Homo sapiens: one gene and its partner. The protein of the gene in region 2 interacts with the protein of the main gene of each other region in a pairwise test. Each region holds a gene or a part of one and is shown on either strand. Other genes may lie near its edges.

Region 1 (2,724 bases), on a different chromosome or scaffold from region 2:
GGACAGCAGCAGTGGCCTCAGGACCCCCCAGCCACCCACCCACTGCCCAAGGGGAGTGTCGGAGCTGCAACAGGCTTGGGCTGGGCAGGGCCGCTCCTACCTTTGCGTCCTGGGAGGAACGTGGACAGAAAGTGAGGTCAGGGGCTGCCCAGCCACACCCCCAGAGGCCTGGCGAGCCCATCAAATGGCTCACTCTGCCATCCGCGGCAGGCTCCCCACCAGGGGTCATAGACCCCAGCCCACCAAAGGCCCTACCTGGGTGGGGGCCTCCCTCGGGGTGGGGCGGGGCCGCTGAAGGCGCTCCACGTCATCGATCTCGTACACCTTGATCTCGAACGGCTCCTTCAGGGAGCCAGCCAGGGGCGGGGGCAGGTCCACCCACTGCCCGGGGAGGCTGGGCTTACGGCCCAGGGCAGTGGTGTCGGGCAGTGGGGCGGGAATCAGGCGCCGCCGCTGCAGACCTGGAACGGAGAGCCGGGCACAGGGTGAACAGAGGCGGGGCCCAGCCCAAGCACAGCCCCTGCGGGGACGCTGCGGAGCCGGCCCGAGTCCTGACAGGGAGGCCTTCGGGATCCAGTCCAGGAATCCTCAGGCTGGCGCTCTGCCCAGGGCAGGGAGGAAGCCGACCCCAAGCCAGGCCCACAGCTCTCAAGGGCGCCCCCACCACCACCAGGGCCTCCCACTTTCCCTGCCATGACCTGAGCAGTTCTGTCCCTTGGGGCAGCCCTGGCGGGGGCCTTCCAGGCAGCTCGACACTCGCCAGGGAGGCACGAGGCCCGGGACCCAAACCCGAGTCCAGTGCCCCAGCCTGGCGACCTGTGCAGGGCTGCCCTTGTGCTCACCCAGACACAGACCAGGATCAGCCCCCCAGGGCAGGGTGGGGCCAGAGAAGGGCAAGTACAGGGGGTTTATAAACTGCAGAGGGCCGTGCACCTCCACACACAAAAAGCCCCAGGCGAGTCTGTAAACCGTCCACGGCTGTGTGGGTCTGGGACCTTGAAGGCTGTGCCCATCTGTCCAGCATCTCCTGGCCCTGTAAACTGTAGAGGGCTGTGCACATCTACACACAGAAAGCCCGTAAACTGTAGAGGGCTGTGCACCTCTGCACCCACCTGTGGCCCTCTTCTTGGGGGACTTGAGGCTGCGGGTGCGGGCGCCTGGGGAGGCAGCCCCACTCTCGCTCATGGAGTCAGGGGCGGAGGAGGCGCTGCCGGTGGCCTCGCTGTCGCGCCGCAGGCTCTCATAGCCACTGCTGCCACCGCTGTGGTGGAAAAGGGCGGTGCGGCCCATGGCGGGCGGCAGCTCTCCACTCAGCACGCTGCTGTTGTCGCTGCCATGGCCGCTGCTGTAGCGCTGGGGCCGCCGTGGGGCGGTCACCTTGCTGTAGGGGGAGGGCAGGGCCGGGCCCGTGGGTGGCCGCTCCTCCCCCACGTTCACGCCGCTGTCATGGCCGCTGTCTGAGTCCGCCGAGCCCCACGAGGAGCCACCTCGGCCCGGGGCTCCACTGGCTGACAGCTCATGGACGCGGCTGTGAGCAGCCCGGAGCGCCTGCTTTGTGCCCATGACGGTACCCCGGCCAGCCTTCGCCCCGACACTGGGCCCGGCCCGTGGGGCTGCTCTGGGACCGGCCACAGGGCCGCCAGGGCTCCTGCCCGTCACAGAGGCCGTAGACAGCTTCACCGAAGGCCCCAGAGCCCGCGACCCACCAGCCACTAGGCCACGGCCCTTGCCTCCACCAACAGGGGGCTTGGGGGCCCCCACAGCCTTGGCTGCGCCGCTCCTACAGGCGGGAGCTGGACCGTGTGTGGGGCTGGAGGGTGGCACACCCAGCTTGGGTACAGCCCGGGGAGGCCGCCCAGGGGCTTCCCGGCCCTTGCTGCTGCTGTGCGCCAGGCCTTCGTACCGCTCCAGAGACGCGTGTCCGGCAAGACGGTGTGCTGCTTCTACCTTGCTGGCCCGGGCCTTCAGGCTGGACGTGGCCCTGGGGACAGAGTGGTCAGCCCGGCTGCTGGGTCTGGGCTCCTCCTCCCCTCGAAGGACAGCAGCAGCCCCGACCCGCGCCGGGTTCACAGCATGCGGAGGGGCCGAGGCCGGGCTGCTCCTCTGCTCCAGGCTGGACTTCCGCGTGGGTGGGGCCGGGGGGGCCGCCCCACTGGGCCTCGGGAGGAAGCCCGCCTTGGGAGCCAGACCCTTCTTGCTGGTGGGGGAGGCCTTCAGGCTCCCCGAGCAGGCCACCACCTCCGTGGGAGCATCTCCCCAGGACACAGCTGGCGTTGTCACACCCAGCGTGGTGGCACCCCTCCGCAGCGGTGGGATCCGAGCCACAGCCTCTGGCCTGCGGGCCGCCCTGGCTGCCACCTCACACCCGTCCACCACTCTCTGGGCACAGGCTAGCATCACCTGGGCCTCAGGCAGCCGGGGGGAGCCAAGTGTGGGGCTGGGGGCCCTGCCAGCAGAAGCTGCCTGGGTATCACACTCCCCTACCCGGAGCAGCCATGGGTCCTCAAACAGGCCTCCACGGCCAGGTGGGCTCTGGCCCAGGCGAGCACAGCCCACACGGGTGGTGGCAGAGGCAGTCCTCGGTTTCCGGGGGAGGCTGGAGTGGATGGTCTGGGCTGCGGATGCCCACCGCGAGGGCCCGGCCTGGGGCTCCCTGCCGGGTCGGGATGGGGCCACTGCAGCCACTTCCCCAGGGCACGGACCCCAGGTTGGCCCAGGACTGTC
Region 2 (3,820 bases):
AATTTCTGATGGACTCTATTGCAGGACTCAGTAGTAGAACTTAAATCCAAATTGCTTTATGAAATTATAAATTTAGTTGGGAAAACAAGCATGTATGTCTATGTCACATCTCCAAGTCAGGTGAGAGAAGTCTACATTAAACTCACCTGACCACTAGCAACTTGAACAATAATTACAATTTTTAAATGCAGAAGTTCATGTTTTGAGGAAGATATGCTATATTGACCTGTTAAAGACTTGATTTAGTGTCGAGTAATTTAAATCAACAAAGCCATAGACAGAAGCTTAGAATGTCAGCAAGGAGAGCAATTATTATGCCTAAATATTGTAGAAGCACAAAATAGTTTTAGAAAGGAGATGGAAAATGACTTGCAAATAGTGACTTATTTTGCTAGTTATAAAGGTAAATATATTTTAATCATTTGGGATCTGGTAGCCTTTGTTATTAAAGAAAAATAGCATTTCTATTTTTAGTTGCAGGCAAGAAAGTAATTTTAGAAGAAAAAAGCCCATTGAAATTTAATTAAAAGAAATCATTGTGGTAGGCAGTCTTCAGTACTGGTCAGATTATAGAAATTATCACTTTTTTATTACAATAACACCACTTACCCAACTTTTTGCTTCTATCTTTACTCTCCTGGTAAAATCATTATGTGTTTAAAAGGGAGAGAGAACAAAACAGGTAAAGCTGTAGCAAAAGGTACAAGGATACAGTCCCTTCCTGGAAAGAGGATTTTGTGGCGAACCATTTCTCCCATAATGCATCCCACAGACCATATATCCACTAGAACAGGAGAGAGAGGGTAGTGAAGAAAAGGGAGGAAAGTAAAGTTAACTAAGATAATTGACTTCTGAAGGAGGAGGAAAAAGAACAGTTTGATTAAAAGTACAATTTTCACCTCCCACCAAAAGTTGGCCAAAATGTGAATTCAAACCAGCGCTATGCTATTACATAAACAGTGTTTAGTATGAGAACTCAAATTAATGTTTAAAAACCCATTACTTTGTGGGTGCCTTACATTGCCTCTCAGCAGTGCCACAAAGTGGTGACATTGGTGACTGAGAAAAGCAATAGCTAAACCAAAAGTATCTCCATGGCAGGTGACAGCTAAAAGCCACCAAAGGGTTTTCTGTGTCATTTTCCGGATGCATAGAAAACAATATTAACTTGTAGAGTTGGCTATTTTCATTTTCTATTCTATTCAGTTACAGAGAATAGGGCAACAAGAGACCACCTTTTTTTTCAGGGGGCCAGGGGGCCGGGGCAAAACAAGATAAATTCAACCAAATCCAATAAACCAGGAAATGACTGGAACCATGGTTTAGAGGCAAAAGAATTGGAATTCCTGGTATTTGGGACTTAGCTTTTCCTTCAGAAGTTTATTCTTGTAAATAAACATCAGTTTTAGTTTCCATTTGAAATATTTCAAGAAAAAAGACATATGATGAATTAGCACATGTATAAAGGAGTCATCTGGAAGGAAAGTGAAAAAAGTATTAAAGGTGTTAAAAATTGTTATGTACATATATTTATTTCCAAATTGTCAAACTTGTTAGGAAAACATGCTTTGCCTTCTCTTACCAATCTTTACCCCTTTCCAACTTGCTTTTCATTATGGACAAAGGGAACTTTTGGGCAGAATCATTTGGCCGAATTGTTCCATGGGGAAGGAAGGCGGGGCTAGGTGCAGGGGACAGCAGGGCATGCCTGATGTGGGAGCAAGCAGGTTTTTCTGCATGATAACCTTCCTCCCATTGGTGGGAGGGCAGCACCAGGGTGCTAGGCAGGCCTCCTCCATGGACTTAGAGAAGTCAAAAACCTAAGGCAGCAACTTGCAATTCCTTCTAGTGAGGGAAGGGAAAGGGATTTTAATACCAGCTATTGGTAGTGCCAAGATCTGAAAGCCCAAATAGGCAAATTCAGACCGCCCCACCCCCCAGTCTCCTGTACATTCTTGATTCTTGACTTTGTTTCTCCTTTGACTTTTTAAAAATAACTCGTGAAGAAAGTATAAAAATGTCTTCTTTTCTGAATAAATTAGATGTGGTATTGCCTAGCAAGGAGGGCTAGATTCATCTCTTCTGAGTCAAAAGGTACCAGAACTCCGATATTGCCCACCAGGGTGAACCTGACCTTTGTAAGAGGTGACTTTTTAACTTCCTCTGTATAAATGCATACATACATTATCTGTCTTCTAATCTAAGAGTATACAAAGAAGTTTCTGTAAACTTCAGTGGCCAGGGAATTTTCACAAAAGTACCCTGTAGCACCTGTACATAAAAATACACTGATTATTTTTATAAAACTTATTAATACAGACTGCTAAAAACTAAATAGAATAGAATATAAAAATAAATATTAAAGATACACTGAATACATATACAATCCTAATTTAAAACTATTTTAATTCCTAAGTATATTGAATATGTTTTCAATATGGTGCATTACTTGTAAGATATAGTCTCATCAAAATAATACATTGCAATGCTTTCTAACATATTTAATAAATCCTTAGTTTTAATCAACTACACTCAATTGTGATACATTTTTAAGATTCCTTCCATAGCCTTCATTTTAAAGTGTTCATGAACATTAAGTTTTCTTTATGAAAGCAGTAGTGTCAAATTTGACATTTTCCTTTTTTACGATTTTTGGAATATATAAGGATTTATTAGGCAATTGCTACTCTAAATGTTTCTTACAGAGCAGCTTAAATTATTACAGAAATTCTTATTCAGTTTAAATAATTTGGATTATTTCAAAGTTGTCTATGAAGATTTTCACTCTAAGGATTTGTGTCACTTTTTTGCTTGTCTTTTTCTAGAACTACAGCCATCAGTCTGAGATACAACATAAAAGCCACATGGCTAACTGTGGTAGATTCCTTTCTGCTTTCACACTCATGCTCAGCTGAGCTGCAACCCAAATAGCAATTTTTCTCAATATCTAGGCACGTGTGCTAATCAGCATCCGCTTGACTGTTTAATCAGACTCCATTTACAATTCTTTTTCACTATTAACATTTAGTGCTCTTCTAGCAAAACTGACTTCTCAATAACATCCTTCACATTTTTAATGAGTGTTTCTTACCAGTAGTATTAAAAAAAACCCTGAATATGCTATCTGGCAGCCCTACTTTATAAAAGCATGTACATAAAAGAGAACATTCCCCTTGGCTATCTACAACGTGCACCCGTTTCATTCATGGTTTTGATGCTGCTCTCCCGAAGCATCCCTACCGTTCTCCTTGTAGCCCATCCCCAGGATGACCTCAGGGGCTCTGTAATAACGTGTCACCACATATGGAGTCATCATGAAGCTTGTGCCTGCTGTCCTGGCCAGTCCAAAGTCCAGGATTTTCAATGTGCAATCAGACTTGACTACAATGTTACTTGGTTTTAAATCCTAACAGTAAGGATAAGGGAAAAAATTAAAAGCCAGTATCAAGTGAAATGTTATTTCCATTGACTCAATCAACATAGCCATTTTGCAGTAGCACTGATGAGGTCCCCCTTGCCTACAGAGCTCTAAATAAGGCAAATGATTACTGCTACAAATAAGTTAACTATTAGTTTTTGGAAAGTGTTTTAATCCCAGAAAAGAATTGTATTATCATTTTCACAATTTACACTAATCTTGGGAAGAGGTTTTAGAAAAAAAAATATTTATTGTCTTCTGTTAGGTTTCTCCTTAGGACAACATAAATCTTTCAACATATATATCATTTCTAGGCCTGACAGAAGAACAGATCAGGGAAGCTGTCTTTATGCTGCCAGAAACATCTATGGAAATGAATTTTCTTATTTCAGTTGCACATAT

The links.
Region 1: the proteins of MAPK10 (region 2) and KIF26A interact in a two-hybrid assay, tested with the Homo sapiens proteins (one large-scale study listed by BioGRID and IntAct).

The regions. Positions count from the first base shown.
Region 1 is NC_000014.9:104,176,287-104,179,010, reverse strand, and holds part of KIF26A (kinesin-like protein KIF26A), read right to left. Parts: coding exon 1,113-2,724; intron 462-1,112; coding exon 256-461; intron 1-255.
Region 2 is NC_000004.12:86,097,812-86,101,631, forward strand, and holds part of MAPK10 (mitogen-activated protein kinase 10), read right to left. Parts: intron 3,407-3,820; coding exon 3,241-3,406; intron 1,475-3,240; coding exon of another isoform or gene 1,323-1,474; exon of another isoform or gene 791-1,322; intron 785-790; coding exon 713-784; intron 638-712; coding exon of another isoform or gene 630-637; exon of another isoform or gene 1-629. UniProt on the Homo sapiens protein: Serine/threonine-protein kinase involved in various processes such as neuronal proliferation, differentiation, migration and programmed cell death.